Linked DNA regions of Homo sapiens: all the other regions are linked to region 6. The links come from fine-mapping of genetic effects on plasma protein levels. Region 6 holds a variant in brackets. A gene starts in each other region. All regions are shown on their forward strands.

Region 1 (4,240 bases), not on the chromosome of region 6:
AAATATTTATATAAGTAAAAACGGCATGTGATTGTTGACTTCTCCTTTCATAATGATATCCAGGGCTTAGGAAAGAAATCCTCTGGGGGAATATTTGCCTATCCAAGCACAAATCGATGTGAATGTATATCCATTTAACCTCACTGGTATATACAACCAAACTGGATAAATCACATCACTCTCTCCCAAAGTCATATTTAAATGTTGATTTTCCAAGTTAACAGTTTATGTTAATCAAAATAACCAAAATATTTCCAAATCCCTACCTCATATCTTGCAGTGCAGAAACAGTTCACAGGTATATAACCAAAACCAAGCATAACCCTCTATTATTTATATAATTTAAACAATAAATATGTTTTCTTTCCTAAAACTCTAAATTAGAGAGGAGTTTCCATTTACCCTGTTCACTTAACCACTCCTCCTTCATGTTTAGAGCAATGCTCTGGGGTATAACTTCAGAGATTCCAGCACAGCAATATCATAGTCTGTTTAAATGTGGGGTAACCTGGGCCAGATAAAGCCTGGATAAAAGAATGCAAAAATATTCCTAGGTTTCATTTCAAGAAGTGAATTTAAACCTCTCCTTCTTTTTAGAAAAGCAGTCAAATGACCAAAGAAAAAAGAAGGAAGTGGAAGCAGAGATGGGGTTAACTAAAATGCCACTGTAGTTGGCTCCGGGCCAATGACTATGAAACAGACCTCACAATTTTCCAGGGAAACTGCAATTACAAATCTCACTCCTGGTGGGAAGCAATGACCGTTACTGCTTTTTCAGAAAAAAAAAAACTTTTTAAGAAGTAGCGCTAAATGGAACGAGTATTGGCACCTGCTTGGTGAGATTATTTTGGGCATTAAATGAGTCAATAACGTGTAATGTGTTTAACACTTGCTCAGACACCTAGCAACACCTGTTTACTGCTATTATCATTTCTGTTATTACTATAAATGCAAACATCATCGAAGGCTCCCTTTGTAAGCAAAATCTTTTTTTTTTTCTTTATGGGGTGCAGTGCTCTCCGCTAGCTCCTAAAATTCCTATGGGAGAAACCAGACTTTTTCTGAAGAAAATGTTTCCCCCATTCTTTCCCACCTCCTACAAGCCTCAGACGCCCCTGGCAGCCTTAGGTGTGGCCGCCCAGTTCTCGATTGGCAGCCACAGCCCCGGGCGCCTCCTCGCCTCCCTCCATCCTTCCTACGGCCTCACCCTCCGGGAGGTCCGTGACGATGGCTTCAGGCGAGATGCACACGCCACGGTCATAGACAGGCAGCTCGTCGCAGGCCAGGCTTTCGGGCCAGCTGTGGTTGTACATCTTCATGAGGGGCTCGCAGTCGTCGCGCGCGCGTTGGCACACCGACTTGCACGGCTTGATAGGGTCGTGCAGGAACTCCAGGGTGCAAATGGGCGCGTACATGGCACAGAGGAAGAAGCGCAGCACGGCGCTGCAGTTCACGTCCACCAGCTCCTCGTACTGCTCGATGGCCAGGATGGCGTTCTCCTGCGTGCTGTGGTGCAGGTGGTTGGGCATCCGCGTGATGTTCCAGGGCATGTGCCGGCACATAGGGATGCGCACCGCCTCGCAGGGCGCGCCGCGCACGCCCAGCGCCAGGTGCAGCCACAGGCACAGCGCCACTAGGATGGAGAGGAACATGGCACTGCCCTCTCGCGCTGCGACCCCGGCAGACAGAAAGCGCCCTTCTCTTCCTGCCACCCTCATCTTTCGCTGTCCCTTCGCCGAGGAAGAAATCCTCTGGGGCGCAGGAGAGTTTCTTCCCCCAAACTCCAGTCGGCAGCAAAGCGGGGCCGCGGGGTCCGGCCGCGGAGCTCCGCCGTCTGGCACACAGGGCACGAGCAGCGCCAGCTCTCAGCCTTCGGGGCGCGAACCCGCCCGGGCAGCTCCAGTCCCGGACTCCGCAGCTCGGAGCGCAGCCAGCCACGGCCATTGCGGGACCCTATTTATCCCGACACCTCCCCTGACGTGGGCTCGGAACGCTCCCTTGGCAGCTGCAGCCGCGGCGCGGGCTCCCCCTCGGCCGCCCCACCCCCAGGCCCGTCGGTGCAGAAGCGGTGACATCACCCCCTCTGGGCCGCAGCCCAGGGCTGGAAGCCTGCTTTCCCCCTAAAGTCCCTCCTTTTTAGTCTGGCCAGTCTTTTTTCTTCGGACCAAGAAAAAGAACCTCTGGCAGTTGTTTTCGACACCGGATACAAGAGGGTGCGGGAGAGAATTTCAAGAGAGAGAAAGACACTCTTTGGCTGAAAACTGAACTTTGCTCCCTCTGCCTTAGAGTTTTTCCAAGTATAGAGTTGGGGGAAAATAGGAGCTTCTGCTGCCCTCTAATTCTGAAATATATTTGCTTTCTCCGGTAGGGGGCATGAGGAGCGCTGAGGACAGTTGGGACAATGTCCTGCAAGGCAGGCGAGAGTGCAGTGAATGTCAGAACAGGAGGGTCACGTTGTATAAATCACTCCCACTCCGCCCTTAGTTGTGTGGAGTGTGGTTTGTTGTTGTTGTTGCTAGTAGACAGTTTGGGCCGAAATTTTTCCAGTATAACACTTGGTTTGTTTCTGCTCCAGGAAGTTAACAGAACTGGGGGAAGGTGTGCTAGCATCTTCCAGCTTCAGAAATGTCTTCTAACATTTCCTCTTCCTTCTAACTCCCTGTTCCCCTCTGCAGCATTAGTGGAACCCAGGAGAAAACATTGGGCACCACAATCTGAAAGGTCTCCCCTGCTCTGATCCTTCATGCCAAAGGATTTCCACCTCAGCAGCCTAAAATCTTGATTTTTGATGTGCTCAGAGACTGTTGCTTGAGTTGAGTAAGAAGCTGTGTACTATGGGATGCAAGTATGTATGTTTTGCTTTCTCTTTTATCTTACTTGCATTAGGAAAAGGTAGTCCAATTGCTGGCTCAGCTATCTACAGAAAAGGGAGGATTTATTTATATGAGATTGATGTATATCAATCTTCAGGTGGTAAGACTTCTGGTATATGCTATTTATTAGGGCATCAGCAATATGGAAACATGTTCTCTGAATGTTAATCTTTAAAAACATAGTTTAACTTGAATTTAAGGCACATGGTTTTTCTCTCCAAAGCTTAAACCTACACAATTAGTTTAGTTTTGACTGAGGATTAAAACTAAAGACTAAGGATTAAAACAGCTGAGGAAACAACAAGCACAAGTGACATCTATTGGGAATTTACAATGGTCAAGGTATGAAGCTAAGAACTTTAAATGCATTATCTTATTTTTTAGGGAACATGAATTAAACATAGTAAGTGAAAAGGATAAATGAGACAAATACATTTCAGGATTCATCCAAAGAGTCTGGTTCTTATTTAGGGGAAGCCCAGGGTGTTCTTACACTGCCAAGCCACTCTAGAAAGGTAATCTAGTTCCTATAGAACCAGTCTCCACCTCCAAAGATGCCAAGCCAGGCTAGTAAAATATCACATGAGGAGGAAAGCCCAGATGACATCTCAAGCCATTTCTAGCAGTAAACTCCAATGAGTCTAAACCCTTCACTGGGTGAAAAAGATTTTCAGCTGGAGTTCCTACCTGGGGAGCAAGAGAAAGAGCTGAACTACCCTACACTTTTCCTATGAATCTGAGCAGGGCAAACTCGGAGAGGGCTCAAATTTCTGCAGCCAGTTTGAACCTGCTGCATCTGTTTAACTATGTAAGTACCAAGTCACAAAGTCTTATGGGCTTCCCTGATGTTCTCTGAGGCATGCCCTTTAAGAAAAGGTAAGAGGAAATGAAGAGCCCTTCTTCCTAAAGCTTTGTGCCTGCCCCATTCGGCCCATTGGTAGTGTCTCTGGTGGTTCGACAGACAGGGGGCAGCAGAGAAGGATGCATCAGGAAAACCTGTCAACTGTCCCTCCTCTTCGGGACTTCCAGGGAGGCTGTGATTCTAGAACACCCTACTTCAGCATTCAGTCCATTCTTTCCATGCCTTACATTTATTTAACAAGGCTCGGGAAGTTGCCTCATTCAGTGGCTTCTCTCTGGTGACTCCTTTTGGTCTCCTCAAGTGCCTGTTCTTTGCCCATCCTTTAAATGTCTGGAGCTCTCTGGGGCTCCATCCTAATCCTTCTTCTCACACTCAACACTCCCCTGAACTCCAGGTTTTCTCACCCCCAACACTTAGGACATTTGGGGCCAGATAATTTTCTCTTCATTTGGGAGAGGGGAGGTGGCTGTACTGCACATTGTAGGAAGTTTAGTAGCATCCTTGG
Region 2 (4,000 bases), not on the chromosome of region 6:
TACTAATGACAAAGGAGAAATGCTTCAGCAGTTTTCTGTCAGCACATTACCCCTTGAAAAAGCTGCTTCTTCCACATTCTGCAAGAGATGGGTCTCAACTCAGAGCTCAAGGCAAATGACTTCCTTCAAGGAGAAGGAATAAACAGTCTCAGAAACCATGAAAGCCTGCCCCCAGGAGTGTCCCTGAACCTCAGCAGGGGCCACACTTACCTTGCAGAAATAGGTGAGGCATGCTCCTGGTACAAAATCCCAATGGTACAGAAGGACAAATTGAAAAACAAGTCTCCCTCTAAACCCCTGACCCCGAGCTACCTAGTTCTCCTCCCTAGAGGCAAAGCTGTTACCAGATTCTTGTATCTCCTTAACATATATCCTTAGAAGAGCTGTCAAGTGAACACATGTTTAAGTGAAAACCTATTTTAGAAGTGCATTTTCTTAAGGAACTTTAGGGTTGGAAGGAACCTGTGTCAGTCCTTAATTCACAACCTCCATTAGTACTTATTGTTCTTGCACAAAAATCTTTCTCAAAAAAGCCCTTTCCACTCTGACATAGCTTATTCTACTTTTACTTAGCTCCAATAACTTATAAAACATATTTTTGAAAGTCTAAAATCTGCCACTATGTTTTTTTTTCCTAATCAATCTTTACTTTGACCTCTAAGCCAGAGAAAACAGGTGGTCAAATGCCTTTTGCCTAAGATGGAACTTAGAATATTTGAAGACCTCAGATCTTCACCCTGCCAAATAACGTGTTTCTCCTCCCCTTTCACAGAGCATTTGGTTTTAGGAAATTCAGAGCCACATTCCTTATAGACAAGACTAAACTCTTATTCAACATACTCAGAAACTTCTTCTAAGAGGATAACCACTCATCAGAGGAAAAAAGTTTCTCATGTACAGCTGGCAAAGGGATGGAACCATCTGTGTTATTAAAATTGACAGACGCTTATGAGATTTATTAAGGGAAATACTAGAGTCTTAGTACATACTTGCTAATATAGCATACATGAAGGCTTTATCTATAATTTTTTTGGCCAAGCAGAAATTTTGGTATTACTCACCCTAACAAATTTCCAAGACATTATGAAATAGAATTTTAGGTCCTGACATCACCATTTGTCTCAGGTTTTGAAGCGTTGCTGGACAAGAGGGGTAAAACACGGCTCTGCCTTGGATTCAAAGTTGGCCTCTCATACTAGCAAGTATACCTTGGTATCCTGGTCACTTCTCCCGGCCACAGCATCACATTGCTATAAAAGGCAGATACAAGTATTAACCAGCTCACAGGTTATCAGATAAGCTTAGTCTGACCAATGCTTAACACAGCAACTGGGCCACTATTGTCATTCCTGTGGTGGTGGCACACACACCCAGCCTCTGTCCGGGCCATGGTCTAGGACCACCCTCCACAGAGGCTGTGAGCTAGAGCCCTAACTGTGCAGGGCCCTAACTATGCCAGGCTACTTATCTCTCTTAAGAGGACTTCATTAGTGCCTGCTCGGCCATACAGTTTTTTACTTACCAAGTAACACAGTTATCAGCACACTCCAGGTACTAGCCAAGGACTACAAAATCAACGTGAATGTCAGCTTTTGTATCAAAAGCTCAAAGGAGAAACTCAAACTTTACATAGATGTCCCATGAAGATGTTCAGCAAACCCATTCTTCTCTGTTCCCTGGAATCCATCCCAGTATTGTGCTATGTGTGTGTCTAGTAATTCTTTACAAAAAGCTCTGTTTCTTGTGATGCTATCAGATCACATTGAAGAATATACAAGCCGTACTATGAAGGCTGTTGTCTCATATAGTCCTAACGTAGTGAGAACTGATGTTCTTACATGCTGTCTTTTTGGGCACTCAAAGAAATTCCTGTACAGTCTTACAAATCAGTTGTAGCTTAAATTGATTTGTGTTGTGACTTGTACACACAGGTCACATTCCCTTGACAGAAAATATAGTTTAAAACCAAATTTGCAGCCCTTGTTAAGTGAATGCACAGGACTTTATTGTATTCAGGTCTTTTATTGTAAGACTCACTCCTGTCTTCATTTTATGTTCCACTGTTGTGCTTCCCATTTGCCTTTCTCTAGTTTTGTTTTCTGTGTTTCTACGGACTGCTCTCAGCCCAGGTGTGCAGGAAGCACACACATGCCTGCAGAGCCTTCATGGCCTCTGCATTCAGGGCATGACTTCAACGCACAGTGGCTGTACTGATTTGTTAAAACAAAGGAACAGATTACTTCTCCTAATTCACAGGGAAGTTCCAGGTTGTGCGGGCAGTGAGCAGACCTGTGTCTGTCTGCGCTTGCCCTGGTGAAAAACCCCACCGTTCAGGCTGCAGGGTGCGAGACCCAGGCACAAACATTTTGCTGGATGAGGAGGAAAGATGTAAGGTTGCTCCCCTTCAGAGACAGCAAAGGGCAGGTCTGTAGCTTCACTTACTTCAGGATTGTGATTTTTGACAGAGCCGAGAGATCAGGGTTGTTGAACCAGGCCTGAAGGTCCTAGTGAATCTCGTGAAGAGAGGAGGGGTCTGGCTGTAACATGGACCTAGAGGACATTTTTACTGCAGGAGAAGGAACAGTGGGGATGGGGTGGACTTGCCAAAGGAATATAGCTCAAGTTCCTGCAGCCCAAAAAAGCTCAGTTTCTTTTGGCCAAAGCTTCCGCGAGTTTCCCTGGCATTTCTCCTGCGGGAGCTACAGGGGCAGTGGGACACTTAGCCTCTCTAAAAGCACCTCCACGGCTGTTTGTGTCAAGCCTTTATTCCAAGAGCTTCACTTTTGCGAAGTAATGTGCTTCACACATTGGCTTCAAAGTACCCATGGCTGGTTGCAATAAACATTAAGGAGGCCTGTCTCTGCACCCGGAGTTGGGTGCCCTCATTTCAGATGATTTCGAGGGTGCTTGACAAGATCTGAAGGACCCTCGGACTTTAGAGCACCACCTCGGACGCCTGGCACCCCTGCCGCGCGGGCACGGCGACCTCCTCAGCTGCCAGGCCAGCCTCTGATCCCCGAGAGGGTCCCGTAGTGCTGCAGGGGAGGTGGGGACCCGAATAAAGGAGCAGTTTCCCCGTCGGTGCCATTATCCGACGCTGGCTCTAAGGCTCGGCCAGTCTGTCTAAAGCTGGTACAAGTTTGCTTTGTAAAACAAAAGAAGGGAAAGGGGGAAGGGGACCCTGGCACAGATTTGGCTCGACCTGGACATAGGCTGGGCCTGCAAGTCCGCGGGGACCGGGTCCAGAGGGGCAGTGCTGGGAACGCCCCTCTCGGAAATTAACTCCTCAGGGCACCCGCTCCCCTCCCATGCGCCGCCCCACTCCCGCCGGAGACTAGGTCCCGCGGGGGCCACCGCTGTCCACCGCCTCCGGCGGCCGCTGGCCTTGGGTCCCCGCTGCTGGTTCTCCTCCCTCCTCCTCGCATTCTCCTCCTCCTCTGCTCCTCCCGATCCCTCCTCCGCCGCCTGGTCCCTCCTCCTCCCGCCCTGCCTCCCCGCGCCTCGGCCCGCGCGAGCTAGACGTCCGGGCAGCCCCCGGCGCAGCGCGGCCGCAGCAGCCTCCGCCCCCCGCACGGTGTGAGCGCCCGACGCGGCCGAGGCGGCCGGAGTCCCGAGCTAGCCCCGGCGGCCGCCGCCGCCCAGACCGGACGACAGGCCACCTCGTCGGCGTCCGCCCGAGTCCCCGCCTCGCCGCCAACGCCACAACCACCGCGCACGGCCCCCTGACTCCGTCCAGTATTGATCGGGAGAGCCGGAGCGAGCTCTTCGGGGAGCAGCGATGCGACCCTCCGGGACGGCCGGGGCAGCGCTCCTGGCGCTGCTGGCTGCGCTCTGCCCGGCGAGTCGGGCTCTGGAGGAAAAGAAAGGTAAGGGCGTGTCTCGCCGGCTCCCGCGCCGCCCCCGGATCGCGCCCCGGACCCCGCAGCCCGCCCAACCGCGCACCGGCGCACCGGCTCGGCGCCCGCGCCCCCGCCCGTCCTTTCCTGTTTCCTTGAGATCA
Region 3 (4,240 bases), not on the chromosome of region 6:
AATTTATTTAGAGACGGGGTGGCTAATCTGGCTAGAAATATGAGCCAGAACTGTGTCTGCAACAAAGGACAAAAATATCTTTAAAAATGTTAATAGTAGCTTTTCCTTAAATTGAAAAGGTGTTTTTTTTTAATTGTAAAAGTTATGTGTTTGTCATAAAAAGCAAATAGTGCTGTAGGCAGCTGAGGTGGGAAGATCACTTGAGGCCAGGAGTTCAAGACCAGCCTGGGCAGCATAGTGAGATTTTTGTCTCTACAAAAAATAAAAAGCAAATAAAAAATTAGCCGAGTGTGGTGGTGTGTGCCTGTAGTCCTACCTACTTGGAAGGCTGAGGTGGGAGGATCACTTGAGCCTAGGAGTTCAAGGCTGCAATGAGCTATAATCATGCCACTGCACTCCGGCCTGGGCAACAGAGTGAGAGCCTGTCTCTAAAAAAAAAAAAAAAAAAAGTTTTTAAGTAATTTAAAAAGCAAATAACTATATACATTATTCGCTTTACATTACATGAAACTAATAAGTATTTCCATTATTCCTTTATTCATCAATATTTGAAAATTGTTTCAGTCATGAATAATGTGTTCCTTTCGTTGTTTTCCCCTTCATATTTGCTGCAAAGGCTGTAAAAGGCACTCTACAGAGTTGTTTGCCGCCTTAGGGATGGAAGTCAGCCACTCCTGCTGTATGGATTTTAGTTTCATAGGCTATTTCCATTCCTCCTTGACACACTGAACCATAAATCAATACCCCAAGTTTTACCCTCACCTGCAACCAAGGTTTCTACTGCACTGAAAATGGCCATGTGAATGTGAGTTTGAGAAAGGTCACATATGGTAAAGTTTTCATGTTGCCACATTTTCTGCATACTCTGTAACCAGGAATGATTTGACTGTATAAATTTATCTTACAGACACACTTGTTTGTACATTTAATGCCTGCTTTCTATAATATGAAAAAATACACAGAACGTTTTATGCAATTGGCTCTGAGTAATGCAACACATAAATGCTTTGAGAGCAGTTACCAAAAATTATGCAGGTTATTACAAAAGTTATATGGAATTGCACAGATATTCTAAATGTGCTTTTGAGTAAATTTCTCAGCTACCAGAGGCCTGGGCAGCTGTTTCCAGCACATCCTGGCACAACATTCATGTTATCATCCACTTATGTATTCCACAATTTCAAATGATTGATAAGACACCTCCCCCATCTTTGCTTCCTCTTGGAGGAAAAAAATATACAAGCAATCACGAGCACAGGAGCAGGTGGACAACTACATCTTAGGAAAGGGTGCGTAACTGTGAACTCTAAACGTGAGCTGGGTGCCTGATGCAGTATAGGAACCACAGTAAGTCGATAATCAGTGAGGCTGGAGGATTGAAATTTTATTTGGTAAAGAATATTGAGCCAGGCGCGGTGGCTCATGCCTGTAATCCCAGCACTTTGGGAAGCCGAGGCGGGCAGATCACAAGGTCAGGAGATCGAGACCAGCCTGGCCAACATAGTGAAACCTGCCTCTACTAAAAATACAAAAAATTAGCCGGGCATGGTGGCGGGCACCTGTAATTCCAGCTACTCAGGAGGCTGAGGCAGGAGAATGGCTTGAACCTGGGAGGTGGAAGTTGCAGTGAGCTGAGATCGTGCCATTGCACTCCAGCCTGGGAGACAGTGTGAGACTCCATCTCAAAAAAAAAAAATGAATATTGAAATAGAGTCTATAGGAAAAAAACTCCTTGAATCTAGTAAATGTGGAATCACAAAATTGAAATAATGTGCATCTGAAAAGTGAATAAATAGATGCCAAGAAGGAGTGAGTCATAAGCACATGAGTTGTAAGAGGTTGAACTTGAGAGACCAGATCAGGCAGTGCCGCTTAATACCATCACATGATCCTCCCCGAGGCCCTGTATTTAATTAAAATAGAGAGGGAGGCACCACAGATGCCAGAAGAACACTGTTGCTCTTGGTGGACGGGCCCAGAGGAATTCAGAGTTAAACCTTGAGTGCCTGCGTCCGTGAGAATTCAGCATGGAATGTCTCTACTATTTCCTGGGATTTCTGCTCCTGGCTGCAAGATTGCCACTTGATGCCGCCAAACGTGAGTAACCCTTAATTTCTATGTTTAACCCATTCTCTGGCCATTGGCTGAAATGATGGCTAATAATATCCTCTGAACTAGAGGTTGGACTGAAGTTCTTCAGGAAGCTTTCATCTCTGGCTCACTCATCTCTTCTTCTGCAAACTGTTGGGAAGGCTGAAACTACAGCAAAATGCCTCCAGCTCCATTCTTTGCTTTCGGCTCATGGAAAGTAAAAACTATGCTGCCCTTCTCTTGTGAAGCTTCTTTTCCATTGCAATTGCAACCCATTCTTGCCAGACAGTGGTTGGGGGAGGGTTGGACAGCCTCCGGCCACAGAACAAAGCAACTCCACCAACTAAACTATGTCCAGCTTCCATCCAAAAGGGTGGAGACCTCACATGAAATGGGGTCTCCAATCTGGAGGCAAATTTACGAATCTCCCCAGCCCTGAAGCTATTGCTCCTCCTGCGGGGCTTCCTCACAGACCTGCAGGAGCTTGCTGGGAGAGGAGCTGAAGCCCAGGCTCTCTACCCTGGTCAGGCAGGAGAGGCCAGGGCATTTTTAACAATACTGATACCCACGCAATGAAACCGGAATCTTTGGGAGTGGGGTCAGAGGATCCTTGTTTTAAAAGTTCCTCTTGGGATCTGCCTATGCAGCCAGGGTCCAGACCACTGAAGCAGTGTGCAGATTCGCGAGAGGAAGAGAGCTGAGCCGCTGTAACCCTGGGCCTGGGATTGCGGGGACGGGACGGGTGGGAAGCGGCCAAAGGCGCAGCGGCTTCTGGTCAGAGCCGCAGAGGCCTGAGACGTGGGCCGCGCCCCGGCCCAGGAGACCCCGCGGCCGCGCCCTAACCCTCAGTCTCCCGACTGCGACTGCGACCCGGGAAAACGCCTACGTTTTTGGAAAGGAAGTCCCATCACAGGGAGCTGACCCGGTGTCAGCGCGCAGCACGTTCCCGGCCCGCAGTGCGCCGCGCGTCCTCCTAGCAGCCCGCGGAGCCCGGCACTGTGATGGTCCCGCTTCCCACACGAGGCCACGGGCCACAGAGTGGGCAAGGAACTCGCCCCAAGCCACACAGCGGGTAAGTTGAGGAGGCAGCCTTCCATCCCGACCTCTGTCCTTCCTGCCCGGGTTTGGGGTTGGACAGGCTCGGGCTCCCCGCCAGCCTAGGGGCTGGGTCTCCAGTGGCTTTGCTCCATTTCCTCATTTCCTTCAAAACGAGGAGTTTTCGTTTCCTCATTTGCAAAACTGGGTAATTGTGTTCTTGTGAGATCAGCTGCTTGGCGTGAGAGACGTGCATGGTGGGGATTGTTCCTACGGAGGCAGACCTGCACCCACCCTCAGGATACCTCCCAGGACAGGCTACTTTAAAGACGAAGGAACACAGAATAGACCCGATGGGGGACACCTGCTATTATTCCACCCTCTTTCACCAGTCCACTTCGCTCTGCTCAATAAAACAGATTAGCAGGAGGCCGAATCAGCGCTGTCAGCTCGAGAGGAGTCCTCAGCCTCTTGGGCAGTGTAACAAAACCCAGCCATTCACCAGGTTCACCTTGCTCTGGACTAAATATTCTGCCCAGAAAAAAATAAGGGCAGGCAGAATGTAGCAGTGTATCAAGCACTAAAGATTTCCTACCATTTTCCATTCGTAGCCCTGAAGGAAGGAGAAAGTGTGGACAAGGTAGGTGGAGGCAGCCCAGCCACCACCTCTCTGCTGGTGGACACAGCAAGGATGCCAAAGTGTGGAGGCAGAGTCGGCTGCAGCACTGGGTGCGACCTCAAATTTACCTTCACATTGATTGCCCCCAAAACCCACCCCCACAGGCTTTTATTTTTCTTTTAAAATCTGCTTACTATTGGGTTTTTTTTTTTTTAATCAATTTTTTTAGAGACAGGGTCTTACTCTCACCCAGGCTGGAGTGCAGTGGTGTGATCACAGCTCACTGCAGCCTCCAACTCCTGGGCTAAAGGTGATCTTCCACCTCAGCCTCCTGAGTAGCTGGGACCACAGGCACGTGCCACCACACCCAGATAATTTTTGTATTTTTTGTAGAAATGGGATCTTACTACATTGCCCAGGCTGGCCTCAAACTTCTGGGCTCAGTCCTCCCTTGGCCTCCCAGAATGCTAGGACTACAGGCATGAGCCACCTTAT
Region 4 (4,000 bases), not on the chromosome of region 6:
TAAAGCTTAAGAAGCACATAAGCTTTCTTGTTTCCATTTAACTGGTCTACAAACTTAGAAAGTTTATCTAAGTGAAATGGTATTTCCTCTCAGACACTATTATTAGGTAAATAAGTCACTGTGCTTTTAAATCCCATGTTTAAAGGCCCGCTTGGCAACTTTTCCCCTGGGTTTAAACATGCCTATCAGTTCACAGGTACCAGTAGCAGATTTCAGCATATAAATGTGATATAACATACTCCATATATTTCACCGAAGGAATCCAAACCAAATTCAGATGTAATCAAGGCATAGTCTTGTAAGCTAACAAATGAGTTAAAAGTCCAACATGCATTTGGAAACTTATTCACAGTACCATTTGTTCATGGATACTGATAAAGATAGCACTTTCCTTAAAAAGTAGTTAATTTTACCTTAGAAGTATAACTAGCATTCTGACAAAGCATTCTAGCTGTTCTTCCTTTTATACTAATTTTGCCCTTCATTAATTTCTCCACATGTCTAGCAATCAAGCTACTGTCTTAAAAAACAAAATCTACTGCCTCTCCATTTTTATGATGTTTCCCACAGTGCCTCAAGACTTGTGCTTGTAAAGTTAATTGTTTTTGTCTCAAACCTCAGATCAGTTATCAGAATATTTGTTTTTAATTGAGTAGTTAGTTGTAACAGAAGACTATATATCCTCTGTTCTTTCCACTACTACACTATACTCCTTAATGCCAAAAAACAAACTAAAAACATCAGGATCCTTTTATGTGTGTGGGCTTGTGCTCGATTTTTCTTTCTTTTTTCATTTCTTTCTTTTAACAGCTTGATTCTTGGATTTAAACAACTTTATTTTTAGGGAAATACAACCCCCTCAGGTTCTTTATGACTCAGTCCCTACACCATGTGGCCACTGTTTCCTGGGTGCCACACCTCTGAATAGATTAACATGAAAGAATGCTGTGCGCTATTTAGATTACTAGGGAGTAGAATATTGAATACATTGCTTAAATTTTTTAATCTAAAATTTAATCAGAAATTTACTTTGGGAGTAGACAAAGGAAATCTTTGAAAGTGTTAAATTCTGACTGTATACATGCTGTGAAAATTTCCTAATCTTTCATATTGAATATAGTGCTAGCTAAACTATTGCTGATAAGTATTCTTTCTTGGAATTGAATAGATTTCCATTTGAACTTTTCAGTGCCATTTCATTATAATAAGGAAGACATTTATCAAGGAAAAAAATGAATATTCAAATGTATAAGTAAAATTGACATTTCAGTAATTCACACATTTTAAATACACATTAGAAAATATTTTAAATATTGAAAAATATATTTACTGTTTCATTTAATATAGCTGTGATATCCCCAAACTTCATGATCATTATTATAGCAATGTTATTTTCCTAGATAAACATACAAGATGTTTATTTAGATGACTTTTAAAATCAATCATGTTAACATTTATGGTAAGGCATAATGACAGGTTTTCACTTAGCTGAAAAAAAAAGTCACATAATTATATTTAAAATACATTCATTATAGGTAAGACATAAAACTAGAATAATTTTAGGTACAAATTTAGGTTTGTATTTAAATGCTGATTTTTAAGAAATTATAGAGATAAACTTTGGACTTTATCCTATTATTTATAAGCATTTATTAATAACATTAATGTCTCCTTAGTATTGACTGTAAAGTATACATCGATACTTGTAAGATAGACATGAAACATACCTGTCAGAAGAGAGTAGTCCTCCTAAAAGTAGAAGTTATCCACCATGTACTACTTATCTATAATGTAAATGTTCTCAGACACTGTGTAAGAAGAAAAGATGAGGAGGTATTACATTTAAAAGAAAAAAAACACCCTTCAACACAGTCCTGGTGTGGCTGCACCCTGGGTGATACTGGAATAAACTGCTCCCACAGATTAGTCCATGTTAGTACTGAGGAGCAAGATTAAAACTTGTTACTGCTCATGTGTTTTCCATCACTGTTTGTATCGTAGCCAAGACTTCTAGCTAAACTCTAGACGTCTACTGGAAGATTCTGAAGAAGAAAAAAAAAGAAAGTTTAATAATGCATGGCAACTGGCCATTGAAAGTGCAGTCGGAGTCATTCAAGAAATACCTAGTTTTAAAAATATTAGATTCTTAAGTGAATGAATATTTGTAAATTACAATTTCAAAAATTACTCAACCTGTATAGACTAATAAAATATTTATCAATCTGAATAAAGGATACCAACATTACTGAAGTATATACCCAAACTTCAGATGTACCTGAGAAAGAACCATACTTTTTTTTTCTTCTAATGACTGTAGCTATTGCATTATGCATACTTCTCCAGACTTTTTTTTTTTTTTAAGCTTTTAGCACTGCTATAGCATGTCAGGGAAACTATGGATGAGGCTCCATGAACTGCTCCCTGGACTCAACATATGTGATATAACACAGACACACATGCATGTCCAAGTAACACCCTCTTAGGATGCATACAACTTTCCCTTTTCAAGAGAATATTAGCTATGGCCTCACTGACATTTAGGGAGACTTAGAGCAGGGAAGATGCTATTTCCTGAAAATAAATCATTATTTGTACCCCCTTTCCACTCATCCCCAAGAGACTGCCCAATTCTACATCAACTAAGACCTTCAAGAGAGGACAGTTTTCTTTTTTTTTTTTTTGAGACGGAGTCTCACTCTGTCACCCAGGCTGGAGTGCGGTGGCGCAATCTTGGCTTACTGCAAGCTCTGCCTCCCAGGTTCACGCCATTCTCCTGCCTCAGCCTCCCGAGTAGCTGGGACTGCAGGCGCCCGCCACCACGCCTGGCTAATTTTTTGGTTTTTTAATAGAGACAGTGTTTCATTGTGTTAGCCAGGATGGTCTCGATCTCCTGACCTCGTGATCTGCCCGCCTCGGCCTCCCAAAGTGCTGGGATTACAGGCATGAGCCACCATGGCCGGCCTGAGAGGACAGTTTTCTAACCCTAGTGGCAAGGACTTACTGTTGTAAGTGACCCCAATGGTTCTTCCCAACTGTTGTATAGATTTGGAGGCCAGCAAAGAGCTTTTCCAGTGGGTTAGAAGACCTGTTCTCTACTGTCATCAAGAGTCTGACCATCGTTTGTTCCCTCTCTCCAGAGAAATGGCACACATTGTGTTAAGCAAGGCAGCTACAGTCCTAAAGAATACATGTGCCTCAGATGTGCATAGCAGCTGGCTATGTGTTCATCCTCCCCTCACTTAAATAAAGTACTCCTCCTTGGACCTCTAGGCTGACAGTTCCAGGCAGCTCGGTAGTCCCATTAGTGGCCCTCTGTAACTCAGGCCCCATCCTAGCCCTGCAGCACCTTAGGGAATGACGGCCCTCCTGTTTGGTTTAGAATGCTCATATTCTCATTTATTCAAGTATATTTCAGTTGCAAATGTATCTGTTAACTGGATGAATTGGGAACATAATGAAAATATGAACTGGATTTTTAAAATCTTTGTATCCAGAGCATCTAGTGTTTGCCTAAATTCCTTCAGAACACAGTCATAAACAGGAAGCCCTTGGGTCAAATTCAGTTTGTCCTGCACAATGTTTTGTTTCTGAACTGTTTATTGAAGTGTATGTTACCAAAAAAAAACATATCATAATGGTACAACTCAATTAATTTTTACAAAATGACCCCAATCAAGAAATCCCAGCCTCACACTCCATTCTCATACATCCAGAATCCCTCCTCTTACTCCTCAAGTCACAGCCTGAGTTCAGCACCATAGGTTATTTCCTGAACTTTATATAAATGGAATCATACTGTGCATTCTCTTTTGCATCTGGCTTTTTTCATTCAGTGACATGCTTTTGAGATCCATTCGTGTCATTGTGATACACAGTAGTTCATTCTTGTCACTGTATAGTATTCTCATACATGAATAAGCCACAAATTGTTTATATATTCAACTAGATTAATTACCTTTTGGAGAGGTACTATGAACGTTCCTCAGTCTGTCATTTGGGG
Region 5 (4,240 bases), not on the chromosome of region 6:
AGGTCTGATTCCAAAGCCATTGCTCTTAGCTTCCTGAGGTCCAGGCTGTCCCTAGCCCCTAAGGCAGCCACTCCTTCCCAAGGTTCTGATGCAGCCACCTATCTGGAGTCACACAGGAGTGCGTCTCTTTTCTTGTGGCTGGATCTCCTAGTGATATGAGGACAGTTCCTGGAGAAGATTCTCCCCTCCTGTCTAAACACACCTAAATGGGCTTGGCCTCCTCCCGCAGCTGGCTTCTAGTTGCATATTGGCCTGGTGGCAGTTCTTCCCCTGCTCTCCCTTCCAAGCCCCCACAACTCAATGTATCAATGATTGTTTTAAACTGTGACTCTAGGATTCCACTAGCCAGAGGCCCTTTCAACCATGGGCCCTCTGAGAAGCTCCTCTGTAGGCCGACAGGAGGGTGGACTTGCTTCGCGTGGTACCCGGGGACTGGGGCAAGCGGCTGCGGGATAGGGGTCTCCACCTGAGCTCCCTGAGGGCACCTCTCCCACTACCACCGCATCTGACCCCCACTACTGGCCCCAGCTCGGGCCTGGAGCCCACGCAGAAGGGGAGGCAAGGTTGAGCGCCCACACCCGGCCAGTAACCGAGGCGCTGGCCCTTGCCGGAGCACTTGGCCGTCTTCCGCAGAACAGCATCACTGGCAGCCGCCCCGCGTGGAGGGTGGAGCCGGGGAGCCCGGTGTGGGACGGCCGGGGCCAGGGTACCCTAGGGCGGAGAGCTCAGGGCTGGCTTCCCGCTCCCAGCCGCGCGCCCCTCGGGCCGGAGGTTCCTGCCGCGCCCCGACACCTGGAGTGCATTAGGCGGCGGCGCGCGTCTAGGCGACGGCGGCTTTCCCCAGATTATTGAATAATTGCATAATTCCGAGCGCGGGTTGGGAGGCAATGCCGGGTCCCTACCCCGGGTGTCAGGTAACGTTTCGGGGGTCCTGCGCTGCGCGACTGTGTCCCGCCGCTGCTGGCCGGGCAGACGAGAGCTAGCCCCCGCCTACCGGCCATCGCCCCGGGGCTTTGCTCTGTCTTTGGCCGGAGGCACTCTGCGCAGCCCTCACCCCCACCCTTCAGCCCTCCGGGGCCGCCGCGCCCGGCTCTCCAAACTTTGAGATGCTTCCCCGGAGCCAGGCAGGAGGGCAGCCAGGGCACACTCTCTTGGCGCTGATTCCCTTCCCCAGCCGGGGCCGTGCGCCCTCGGCGCTCCCGGGACACCCGAGTGCCCCTGGCAGCCGTGCGGGAACCCCGGCATGGGCCTTGGAGGCACCTAAGGCGCCCAGGAGGGCCACCAGATCTGGGAGCTTTTCAACTCAAGCCTCTTCAACTCTTCCCAAACACACCAAAGAGTCCCGGCTTTCAATAGCCTTCGCACCTCCCTCTTTAGCGAAACTTGACTGAACCGCTAGACTGGGGCCAGTCCCTGGGGGACCCACGTCCCCAAGAGCAGCTGAGGTCTGACCCTGGGAGGAGGGTCGCGTCCCGATCCTGGCCGCTGGATCCAAGCCCCGAGGGCCCAGGGAGGGACTCCGAGAGGCAAGGGGAGGCAGAGGGTGGGCACCTACCTGGCCACAGGCTGAGCGCCCAGGCCACCACCAGGCCCCTGGGCAGGTCCATGGCCCGCGGCACGGCGGCTGGGTCCGGTGTGCAGCGGCGGCGGGGGGCGGCAAGCCAGAGCGGCAGCCTCCTCGGCGCGGCGCCTGCAGCCTGCACTGCGCGGGGCGCCGGGCTCCCTGACAGCTGCGGCTCATTCAGAGGAAGTGGGAGGGCTCGAGCGGAGGGGAGGGGCGCCGGACACCACTCCGGCTCGGGCTCTGGGCCAGTCTCGGCCGCTCTGCCACCTGGGCAGGCGGCGCGCTGCCTCGACGCGCCTGTGCAGCGCTCCTTCTCCGCCAACCCCACGTCAGCCTCTGGAGAAAACTCCAGAGAACCGCTCCTGGGAACCCCCTCACCAGTGTAGCACCGCACCGCCTCAGTCAGATTCTGTTCAGGAAAAGTGGTTTTTATTCCCATTTCCCAGTGAAAAGAGATTCACAAAACTCAGAGGGTACCCAAGCTGGCTCAGGAACACCTGCTGGAACGCAGGTCTCCCTTGGCCAAGTGAGTGGATGTCCCTCAAAGGTCCATTCTAAGACATCCCCGTGTCTCCCTGCACCCTGCGGCTTGAATTGTAGAGGCTAGTGTTTCTTCTGACCCTGGAATACATGCAGATTCGCCTCCACTGCCACTCCCTGAGCCTCCACACCTGAGGCATTCCAAAGCACCCAGGGACACCGTGCACCCCCTCTTAACCTAACGTGAAGCTCTTCTTTGTAACCCTGCCACCTTCTTTCCCTCTTCTAATCACTGGTAGTTAAATTCAATGCACATTTATCTCAAGAGCTTTAAATCCAGGCCCCGGACCTCCACCGCGCTTGTGGAGGCTTTTCCAGCAATGGAGGAAGCCGAGGCAGAGGGTAGGAAGGCCAAGATGCAGGGAAAGCCACAGCAGAGCGCCCTTCCCCCACTTTCTCAGGAAAGGCTTCCTTCACCCCCTCTTCCCGTCCCCACCAGGTTGAGTCCCAGACACATGCTGATATTCCCCAGCCCGCTCTCCCTCATTTCTCTTCATTGTGCTTAGTAGAGAAGCAAGGCATCAATTGGTGTGATCATTTAACTTTTCTCTCCTGTGCAGACTGAAAACACCATCAGGGTAGAAATCTCTGGTTCACAATGGAGTACTCAGCCCCTAACACCCAGGAACAAAGTAGGTGGGCGGGTGGATGGATGGGTGAGTACAGGTGGTGTGTGGGTGCACAAAGGATAGAGTTTTCTATCTGGGAGGTATTGGAAGGGCTTCCCAGAGGAGGTGATGTTCAGTCAGGGCCCCTGAAGATGAGCTGGAGTTTGAGAAGACCCAGGTTCACATAAGTGAAGTGGGCTTGTGCTCGTCTCCCAACCTCACTATCTTTCGGTTGGCTATCTGGGTTTTACTTCATCTTCACCTCACCCATTCAGCCACAGACTCGGGGAAGGTGATTCCGTCCCTGGTGTGTGTGTGTGTGTGTGTGTGTGTGTAAGGAGGCATGCGGTTCAGGCTGAAATGAATCAGTATGTTGCCCTTCCCAGCCCATCGTTTCAGAAAGGGCAATATGACAAAAGAAAAAGTTTTTTTGGGAAGCAAGCTTTCTTGCCTTTCTAAAAGAGCCCCTAGAACAAACAAACAAATGAACTAACTCTCTCTCCTCACCTCTCCCACTCCTGCCTCCTCTCCCAGCCTGGGACAAGGAACTTTGTAGGCTCAGAAGTTGACAGGGTCAGGGTAGGGAAGGAGGATCTGGCCTTGAGATGAGGTGGACACTGGATGACAGAATGGAGGATCTTGTTGAACTCCTGAATGAAGCCACCCCTTAACCCCACTCCCCTTGGGACTTATCAGTTATACGACAGTGAGTCCTCTTCACTGAGTTGAGTTTAAGCCAGCTGAGTTGAATGTAGAACACCCCTACAGCTAGGGAATGGGCTGCAGCCCACATTCCTGCCTTGCACAAATCTCCAGGTGCATCAGAACGACCTGGAGCACGTGCAAAGAATGCAAATTCCCCAAGGATCAGGGCATGCTGGTGGGTGCCCCAGGCACCTCTGACGTGTGGGTGGTCTGCAGCTTGTGCTCAGAGTCTGCATGCTGCTTGCTGAAGGGGCGCACTGTAGTGGCTGTCCTAGCTGCGCTGCTGCTGGTCTCGCTGGTAACAATTCTACCATTCATTCACCTTCACCGTCCTCACAGGTGCCTGGGGAATGGGGGTCCTGAGGATCACTCTGTGTGCTTTTGTGTAATGTGGGAGGGTGAGGGGAGAGGTGTGCCCTCATTTGTTCTTTCAACAGATCCTACAGAGTGCCTACTGTGCCCCTGTGCTCTGTAGGACACACGGAAGGAGAACCCCACACTAGGGCAGCTGGTGATGGAGCTGAGGAGACAAGACATAACCATGTATTTATTTAATCATAATCTGTTATTTATTAATCTATTTAAAACCATTTATTATTTCATCACTATTAAACATTATTTAAATCACACCCAAGGCAGCAGCATATGAGTGACAAGTGCACAATCCAGACTCTAAGGCTGGAGAACTGCAGAGAATTTGGTGAAGGGCTTTATGAAAGCTGTGATTTCTGTTGAATAATAATAATAACTCTTTACATGTACACAGTGTTTTAACTGATTTATTTATTCACATGCCATAAACTGTGCCATAGAATCCAGTAGT
Region 6 (4,240 bases):
TTTTGAGACAATCTCGCTCCATCACCCAGGCTGGAGTGCAGTGGCACAATCTCGACTCACTGCAACCTCTGCCTCCTGGGTTCAAGTGATTCTCCTGCCTCAGCCTCCTGAGTAGCTGGGACTACAGGGGTGCGCCCCCATGCCCAGCTAATTTTTGTATTTTTAGTAGAGACGGGGTTTCACCATGTTGGCCAGGCTGGTCTCCAACTCCTGGCCTCAGGTGATCCACCCATCTCGGCCTCCCAAAGTGCTGGGATTCCAGGCGTGAGCCACCGCGCCCAGCCCCTGCAATACGTCAACAGTCCCTAGATTCAGGCAACATGGAGTTGCAGCCAAGGAACTTTGAGGTAGTGACCAATGCAGGGAGGTCTGACAGAGAATCAGCAGGATCCATTTCATGGCCACCACACATCTGACTGACTCCTTCTTGGGCTAAGCAAATACTTTTGTGGGCAGTGACACTGGCAGCTGCTGGGGTCTTGGCAGGAGGTTGGATGGAGGTCTTCTCCCAGAGCAGTGTCCAGCTTGCAGGAATGCTCCCTGCGTCTCAGTTGTGCCCATTCCAGGTCCAGGGGAAAGAAGTGACCCGCTTCCCCTCTGAAAGCAGATGTGGTCCCAACAAGCAAACACGGTCTCCATCTCCAGCACCACAACTGCCACGGAGCAGAGGGAGGCCTCCCTGTGGAGCAGCCCTTCCCTGTGGCCTCAGCCCATGCCCTCCTGCCCAGCCCCCAGTGGTGCTGCTGGAGGGTCTGACTCCACGGGCTCCCGCTGACCTTGCCGTTCCTTCCCCTCATCTCGTAGCGCCTGGCCCCTGGAGGAAGGTGGGTAGGAATTTGACACCGGATAAATAAATGTTTGAGGGGCAAGAGAGATGGGACAGAGTTCACCCAACAGGACAGACGAGGCTGGCAGTCACAGCAGAGGGCAGGCACTCAGGTCTGGAGAGGCAGGGCATGGAGACAGGGACCCACACTCTGGAAGGTTTCTCGACTCCCCCGAGGGGCTGGCCAGTTCTGTCTTCCTTCTGCCCACTCTGTGGGGAGGAGCCTCTCTGGGATAGCGTCCCCTCACTCCTCTCCCAGCCTCGTTTATCTTCACCACAGTACAGAAGGGGGCCCCTCTCCAGGCCTCACCACTTAACTTTTCTTGTACATGGAAAGACAAGCCTCTGCTAGAGGCCTGGCAAGGGTTCCCCTTCAGAGCCAGCCAGTGCTCTGCTGCTGTAATCTCCAGGGACCCTGCCGGCCACGGCCCCCATGCAGCTCCCTCCCTCAATCCAACCCTCTTTGGGCTTATCACCCTCAAGGTCTAGAGTGCACCAGGGTTGGCTGCTCTGCCAAGTCCTGTTGAGACTCCAAAAGCATAGTCTGTCTTTATTAGGGTGACCTTCATATCAGACTCCCAGGTAACTCAAGATGATAGCTTTGCAATATAGTGCCTCCTTTTATTCCTATTTGTGAGTTTCTCCGCTTTCCTCACTAGACTGAGAGGGTCTTGAGGGTAGGAGCTTTGTTTTAGTTATCTCTCTATCCCTGGCCCCTAAGACACTACCTGGCTCAGCAAACCAACCTTTGAGACAAAGCAACATTATAACACTACATTCATATAGCAGATCATTTCATGACCCACATTCTCCTTCCTTTTTACGAAGAAATGGGCTCAGGATGTCTTGTCCAGCATTATGGAGTGAACGTCAGCTCCAGGAAGCAGAGACTTCTGGCCCTTTGTTCACCATTTCCCCAGAACCTAGGGTGGTGACTCACCTATAAGTGCTCAAAAAACATGTGGCGAATGGAGGACCAGAGCTAGGCTCTGAATGAGGCCTCCTGGATCTCACGCAGGGGATGGAGAGTAAGGACCAGCCCCTCTACCTCATGCTTTCTTCCTGCTATCTCGTAAGAGCCCAACATCCTTCTGTCCTGAGCAAGCCACAAGCTGCAGCCCTGCCTTGACAAAATGGCAAATGCCAGCCCCTCTGGCAGCATGACACCTTGGTCCTGTGTGCTGCAGAGTGCCTCATGTGTTGAACTGTGTGCCCTCAGAAGCATGCCATGCCCCCGCTCTGCTGGAGCAGTGGCAGATGTCACCCTTCCTAGATAAATCCTGGACGGCTCCACGACTGGCTTTTAGCCCTCAACACTTGGCCTACATTCTTTCTGGCTTGGTTGGAGAAGGAAAGAAGCAGTTGGAGGCATGACTGCTATTGTTCCTTGGCTTCTCTCCATTTGTCTCAAACTTTCCTAATAGAGCAAAATTGC[T/C]GAGTGGTCTCTATTTACCAACATGAAACAGAAAAATACCATCTCAGGCTCCATATTCCATGTCCCTGTTGAATACAGATCCCCGAACTGAGAAATAAGAAACAACTACATACGAAGTAATACTTGAAAATGTTTCTCTTGTAATACTTCCATATCCAAAGCATTTGAATATATTTATTTTATTGATGTAGGTCTGCCAACTCTTCCTTCTCAGGAAGGACTGTTTTTATTCCAAACATGTATATATAAGGTTAAAATGTATTTTTTAAAATAAGATAATTATTGATAGTTGTTTTTAAAATAGCCTTGCTTAGCAAAATAAATGTTGGCAACCCTAAGTTTGTTCTATTATAATATTATTGAAATTACATTGAATTCTGAAATCCATGTCAACTTGAAGTTACCAAGTTTTAACCACTGTTAGAAAATAAGCAGGAATGAAATCTGTTTCAAGCGTTTCAATTTCAATACAATTTAATAAACAGGCTTTGAGCATCTACCCCCACCCCCTTTTGGTTTTTTTGCAAGCACCTGGAGGCAGAGCTCATGTGGAGCTTACAATTTAGTAGGAACACAGGCATTAATTACAAAGTAATTACAATGCTGATGAGTGTGTTGAAGTGGAGGGGGCTATGGGGCTTCAGCCCCAAAAAGCTAAACCTGCAGGCTAAAACTTTAAAAAAATATATTTAATTGGCAAATAAAAATAGTATACATTTATGGTGTACAACATGTTTTGTTATATGTATACACTGTGGAATCACTAAATCGGGCTAATTAACATATGCATTATGTCACATATTTATCATTTTGTAATGGTGAGAACATTTAAAATCTCTGTGAGCAATTTTCAAGTATACAGTACATTGCTTTTTTTGTTTTTTTGAAACAGAGTCTCACTGTGTCACCCAGGCTGGAGGGCAGTGGCGCAGTCTCGACTCACTGCAACCTCCACCTCCTGGGTTCAAGCGATTCAGCCTCCCAAGTAGCTGAGATTACAGGCGCACACCACCACACCTGGCTAATTTTGTAGTTTTATAGTAGAGACGGGGTTTCACCATGTTGGACAAGCTGGTCTAGAACTCCTGACCTCAAGTGATCTGTCTGCCTCAGCTTCCCAAAGTGCTGGGATTACAGGCGTAGGCCACCACCCCCCGCCCAGTACATTGTTATTAACTATTGTCACCATGTGGCACAATAGATCTCTGGAACTTCTTCCTCCCATCCAACTGAAAGTTTGCATTCTCTGACCATCTCCCCATTCCAACAGGCAACCACCATTCTACTCTCTGCTTCTGTGAGTTCCACTTTGTTAGGTTCTACACACGAGATCACGCAGCGTTTGTCTTCTTGTGCTCTAGGCTGGATCTTGGTTATCAGCCCAATGACAAGCAGAGTAAAGGCCCGGAAGTTAGGGAGACCAGGGCTCAGTGTGGCTGGCACTGAGAGCTGAGCTTCTAGCGTGGGCCCACACATACATTTAAGACTGTAGCCAATTTTCCTTTCAGAACCACGATGAAGAAATGAAAGCCAAGGCCAAGAAAATCTTTAATGTTCTGTTCCTCCCCTGCTTGGGAAGTAGAGTGGTCTGAAGGCTCCAACACAGAATCTGTGCCATAACCAAGTCTTATCTGGGGCAAGTTACATAACTGCTCATGAAATAGGAGTGATAACAATGCTTCCCCCAGACGGTTTTTCTGAGGGTTAAATAAGAATTTTGTGGGACATAGTAATCACTCAGTAAATGTTCTGGTCTGAGAGTGACCAAAAGGATGGAACTAGAGATATTTGGGCAAGATATTTGCTATGGCCTGAACGTCTGTGTTCCCCTAAAATTCATATGTGGAAATCCTAACACCCAAGGCAATCGTGGGGCCTTTGGGAGGTGATTAGGCCATGAGGGTGGGGGGCCCCCATTAATGGGATTAGTGCCTCATAAAAGAGATCCCAGAGTCACCCCTAGGCCCTTCCTCTCACTG
Region 7 (4,214 bases), not on the chromosome of region 6:
GCCAGCTAGCTGGGCAGGGCCAGGAGCATGTCACCTCTCAGACACCCTTCAGGACACCCCTTCTTCTTGCCAGGCACAGGCAGATGGGTCAGCACCCTCCAGGGTGCTTTAGCCTCAGCACCTGAGGCTGGCAACCAGTAGTCAGTGCCTATACTACCCCACAAAGAACAGGTCAACCTCCCCTGGATCTAAAAGAGGAATCATTAGTCCCTCCACCCAACAGAAAAGGAAAGAGAGAATCCTGCCCGCCCCAGCCACACATCACTAAAAAGGGACCTGGACAAACCATCCTGCAGTAAAGAGAAAGCAAAGTAAGGGCCACTGGGCCCCTGAGAATGATTTTTTGTGCTGTGGGGTTAAGGCACTGCGGGAGGCTGAGCCCAGGTGACTGAATGGATGATGCCTGCCCCGGGCCTTCCCTGGGAAAACCCACAGGATGGAAGGGGGAAGGGGTAACCAGAGTCTCCCTTGGTAACCACAGCGAGGCGTGCGGACGCAGGAGCAAGGCTGCGTGGCAGGAGGCAGAGTTTGGACACGTATCCCGGTGGGTGCGTGCCGTGTTTGCGTTTTCTGGGGATGGTGGCTGAATGTATCTGTGTGTGCGCGCAGGAAGGAAGGTGGGGTTGGGGTTTGTAGCCAAGAACCGGGGACAGGAAGAACTGGTTCAGGGAAGGTCCGAAAAGGGATGCCGGGGTCGAAGGCGCCAGGGCCAGGGGATGCCGGCATCCTGATCAGGGTGTCAAGCCCTGAGTAGAAGAAGCGAAGCCGCAGCAACAGCGGGGAAGGCGAGCCCGCCGCCCGGCCTTGGTGCTGACAGCCGGCTCGCCCGCAAGCCGCGCGGCAACTCCGGCTCATGCATCGCTTGGCTTCCACTCCGGAGGCCGAGCCAGGACGAGGTTTCGGTGCAAGTCGCTGCACCAGTCCTAGACTGGGTCTGTCCGGGTCTCCCGAGCCGACCGGGTGCTCTCAAGGGTTCCTAATCATTCCCACCTCTAGCAGGGTGTGGGAAAGTGGGTGCCTCCTCCTGACATCCCGGCTTCCCACCAGACCCTACGACCGGCCCCTGTGTTCCGAAGCAGCTAGCTCGGTCTCCACGCGCCCTGGAGAGGGCGGGGACGCGGGCATCCACTCCAGAGTCCGAGTCGAGGTCTCCACCAAACCCCGGCAGCGCGCACTTTGCGCCTCTTGCAAAGTTTCCGCGCGAGGTTAAGCCAAGGTGGAGCGGGACGCGGGCTCTTACCGTAGACTCCTTGTCCCCGGCAGTGGAAGGGGATCAGCGCCAGAAGTAGAAGGCAGGTCACCTCCATCTTCACGGCCGGTGCTTCATCCCCGCGAGGCGGCGCAGCCCGAGAGGCGGCGGGGGGCGCATTCGCCGGGGCCCCGCGACGCCCCTATGTCCCCCCCTTTCCCTGAGAGGTGAGAGAGAGAGCGGCGACGAAGACCAGGAGACTGAAGAGGCGGAGGTGGCGGCGACCCGTGTTTCTCCTCCGGCGGGGCCGCTGCCCGCGTGGGGACGCAGGGGGCGCTGGCCCAGCCCCGGGTGCCTCGGCGCGCCCGGCACAGCAGCCAGCGCCCCGACCCGAGGAGCCCGGCCGCCGAGCCGCCCCGGGTACCCAGGGCCGTCCGCGCGGGATGCTAGGCGCCGGGGACCTCTCGGCGGCGGAGGCGGCGCTTCGATCCAACAGGCCACGGACGACTGACAAACTTGTCGTTTCCCCGCACTGGGGCCGCCCCTCAGCGGAGCGGAGTCGGGGAGGCCGGGGCTCCGCTCGAGTTAATCAATCTGCTGTTTCCAGTCCTGCGGCCGCTGCCGTGGGCTCAGCGGCCCGACTCCAGGGGGCCGGGCTGAAAGCACTCGCGGCGGCGAAGCAGCCCCGGGCCCGGCCCTCCTGATCCGGGGAGCAGCGCGGGCTGGGTTCGGCCGAGGGACGAGCGCCGCGGGTCCCCGGGTCCGTGAAGTTAGCCGAGCCGCCGATAAACCCGGGGGAAGAATAGCAGCCCGGCGCCCCGCGGGAATCTGGAGAGCAATTCCAGGCAAGAAGGGCCCCAGAAAACGGGGAAAGGAGGAAAGTTTGAGTCTTTTGAAAAATATTCGCGCTCTCGCCCAGGCCGGGGCTGCGGCGCGGGCGCCGCTCGCCGCCTCCGCTCGCCGCGCTCCTCTCCCGCCGTCTGGCCGCGGCCGTAGCCCTCCCGGGCTCCGAGCTCTCGGGAGAGCGGGGCTACGCCGCGCCCCAAGTTGGTCGTCCCCGCCCCCGCCCGGCGGCCTTGGCCTGCGGGGGCCCAGAGCGGGCGGGGCCGGGCCGGGCTCCGGGGCGCGGCGGCCGCTCGGCTCCGGGCCGCGGGAGCGCTCCGCTCGCTCAGCAACTTGGGCTTTGCTGTGCTGCTTTTTCGCCCCTCCGAGCTTTTCATTCCGCGCTCCTCCCGCCTCCCTCCCTCTCTTCCTCCTCCCTCCTCCTCGCGTCTCCTCGTTCGGTCTCTCGCTCTCCCACCCGTTGTCGCTCGCTCTCCTGTTTGATTCCCCTCCAGTTAAAAAAAGGAGCCAATTAAAGGCAGCCCAGCTCGCCTGGCCCAGCCTCTGTCCAATTTCCTCGCCTCCCCCAGGACCAATTAGAGAAAACAAAACAGGGCTGGGGGAAGCTGACTGCCTGCCTTTCTCTTTCTCTTTCTCTTTCTCTTTCTCTCTCTCTCTCTCTCTCTCTCTCTCTCTCTCTCTCTCTCTCTCTCTCTTTCTCTCTCTCTCCTCTCTCTCTCTTCTCTCTCTCCTCTCTCTCTCCCTCTCGCTCTCTCTCCCTTCCTCTCCTCTCCTCTCTTTCCCTTTCTCCTCTCCCTCTCTCTCTCTTCCTCTCTCCGCCCCCTAACATTCCCCCCCAACCCCGCCCAGCAGGAAAATGTCAGAAAGCAGAAATGGATCCATCTATCCCGAGGACAGTGGCGGAGGGACCTGGGTTTCGGCGGGGGCTCTGCAGCCGCGCGCTCGCACACTCGCTGTTCTCCAGCCTTGCACACCCAGACTAGCTGGCCGAGCCGGGTGCACCGTTGCCAGCAGCCCGCGGGGCAAACACGGCCGCTCGCTTCGGAGACCCATGCCCGCAGGGCACTGCACACTTCGTAAATGTTTTGCACTTTGGGGAGGCGGGACTGAAGCGGGGGTCCTAGGGAAAGGCCGGGCGCCTGCGGTTCCTGGGGTCCTGCAGCCGCGCGAGACGGGCCGCGGCTGTGGGTCTGCAAGGCTGTCTGCCCGGCTCGAGAGGCCCCCGCCCCTTTCCAGGCGTCTGGTGCTGGGGCCGGGCCGGAGCAGCTGGCGGAGAGGTCGCGCTGAGAGCTCCTGCCCTTGCCGCGGCCCACAGGTTGCCAACAGGTTTGCTCGCACGACCCCTCCGCCAGAGCTTCCCTAAGTCACCCCACATTTTCCTCGGCTAGCCACTCTTCCCATCTTGCCTCCCCTCGGGACCTCAGGCGCCCCCAAGCGCCCCGGGGGCACACCTCCTTCCGGCTGCCGAACCCGAGCCCCGCTCCAGCGGCGGGAGTCCGGCACTCGGGTCTCAGCCGCCTCGAAGGGGCCCTCGCGGAGCAGGAGTGCGGAGAACGCTCCTCCCAAACGCCCGCGGGGAGGGGCGTAGGCTGGCAAGCGAGGCTGGTGGCCTCCCCCGCGCCTCCGATCCCGCCCCGCGCCCAACCCGGGTCCTGCTAATCTCACCTGCTCCACCTGTCGCCGTTATTTATCTCAGCGTGTGCGCAAGAATTGTTTTAGGTCGGCCCGTGGGAGCGCAGACAATCGCAGCAGCTAACAAGCGGGGAGACTACGAACCCCCCCTCCCTTCGCCCCCTGGAACTGCTCAATATCTTGATGGTGGTTCCACGGCTCTATGCATTTGTCAAAACTCAAAGATCTCCACACTCCAAAAAGGTTAGTCTGCATATAAATTGAAACATAAATTTTTTTAAAATAATAATAATGAACCGTCCCTTCCCCAGGCCCATTTCCTGCTGGGTCTCTCCTCCCTTGACTCTCCAGGGCTTAAGCCCCACCGGAGCGCGCGCTCCTGACTGCTGGAAGAGGAGCGGGAGGTGTCGGGAAGTGCCTGGTGGCATGGGGGGGTTCCACCTTCCTTTCTCAGCCCCCTTTCTGTCCATCTCAGGAAGCCCGAGAACATCCGAAGATTCCTATTCTCTAGCCCACCTCCACTCGTTTGCGCCTCCCTTGTGCCCTCTTC

Alleles and levels. Alleles are on the strand shown, and positions count from the first base shown. The strength of an association depends on the size of the effect and on how common the allele is.
In carriers of allele T in region 6, the plasma level of the protein whose gene starts at base 1,932 in region 1 tends to be lower than with C alone (moderate association).
For the plasma level of the protein whose gene starts at base 3,518 in region 2, C is the high allele of the variant in region 6 and T is the other (weak association).
For the plasma level of the protein whose gene starts at base 1,945 in region 3, T is the low allele of the variant in region 6 and C is the other (weak association).
For the plasma level of the protein whose gene starts at base 1,941 in region 4, allele C in region 6 goes with a higher level than allele T (weak association).
For the plasma level of the protein whose gene starts at base 1,704 in region 5, allele C in region 6 goes with a higher level than allele T (moderate association).
For the plasma level of the protein whose gene starts at base 2,379 in region 7, allele T in region 6 goes with a lower level than allele C (weak association).

The links. PIP is the chance, under the fine-mapping model, that this variant and not a neighbour inherited with it causes the effect. Protein levels are from antibody-based Olink assays in UK Biobank. Linkage for the fine-mapping came from a reference panel and not from the study's own genotypes, which makes the PIPs less certain.
Region 1: it holds the start of SFRP4, and the variant in region 6 is fine-mapped to the plasma level of the SFRP4 protein (UK Biobank, PIP above 0.99).
Region 2: EGFR starts here. The variant in region 6 is fine-mapped to the plasma level of the EGFR protein (UK Biobank, PIP above 0.99).
Region 3: it holds the start of GPNMB, and the variant in region 6 is fine-mapped to the plasma level of the GPNMB protein (UK Biobank, PIP 0.95).
Region 4: ASPN starts here. The variant in region 6 is fine-mapped to the plasma level of the ASPN protein (UK Biobank, PIP 0.98).
Region 5: ITGA11 starts here. The variant in region 6 is fine-mapped to the plasma level of the ITGA11 protein (UK Biobank, PIP above 0.99).
Region 7: it holds the start of MDGA1, and the variant in region 6 is fine-mapped to the plasma level of the MDGA1 protein (UK Biobank, PIP 0.93).

Annotation. Positions count from the first base shown.
Region 1 is chr7:37,914,886-37,919,125 of GRCh38, forward strand. It overlaps SFRP4 (secreted frizzled related protein 4), which reads right to left and starts at 1,932. Exons shown (of 6, transcript NM_003014.4): 1 at 1,208-1,932. The coding sequence starts at 1,652.
Region 2 is chr7:55,015,500-55,019,499 of GRCh38, forward strand. It overlaps EGFR (epidermal growth factor receptor), which reads left to right and starts at 3,518. Exons shown (of 28, transcript NM_005228.5): 1 at 3,518-3,866. The coding sequence starts at 3,779. LOC105375284 (a long non-coding RNA gene) reads right to left here and starts at 3,423. Exons shown (of 4, transcript XR_007060329.1): 1 at 1,062-3,423.
Region 3 is chr7:23,244,831-23,249,070 of GRCh38, forward strand. It overlaps GPNMB (glycoprotein nmb), which reads left to right and starts at 1,945. Exons shown (of 11, transcript NM_002510.3): 1 at 1,945-2,097. The coding sequence starts at 2,028. RefSeq lists an enhancer at 3,397-3,516.
Region 4 is chr9:92,480,566-92,484,565 of GRCh38, forward strand. ASPN (asporin) reads right to left here and starts at 1,941. Exons shown (of 8, transcript NM_017680.6): 1 at 1,728-1,941. The region is part of intron 5 of CENPP (centromere protein P); the gene reads left to right.
Region 5 is chr15:68,430,460-68,434,699 of GRCh38, forward strand. ITGA11 (integrin subunit alpha 11) reads right to left here and starts at 1,704. Exons shown (of 30, transcript NM_001004439.2): 1 at 1,556-1,704. The coding sequence starts at 1,607. RefSeq lists an enhancer at 105-864 and a silencer at 3,411-3,705.
Region 6 is chr11:126,347,240-126,351,479 of GRCh38, forward strand. It overlaps DCPS (decapping enzyme, scavenger), which reads left to right. Exons shown (of 6, transcript NM_014026.6): 6 at 1-2,766. The region is part of intron 1 of GSEC (G-quadruplex forming sequence containing lncRNA); the gene reads right to left. Among named protein-coding and RNA genes, the nearest start is that of GSEC, 6.2 kb to the right of the region's middle. The variant T/C (reference allele first, on the strand shown) is at 2,262.
Region 7 is chr6:37,695,505-37,699,718 of GRCh38, forward strand. It overlaps MDGA1 (MAM domain containing glycosylphosphatidylinositol anchor 1), which reads right to left and starts at 2,379. Exons shown (of 17, transcript NM_153487.4): 1 at 1,241-2,379. The coding sequence starts at 1,307. RefSeq lists enhancers at 273-1,002, 1,003-1,732 and silencers at 1,275-1,434, 1,465-1,754, 1,935-1,994, 2,055-2,184, 2,245-2,314 and 3 more.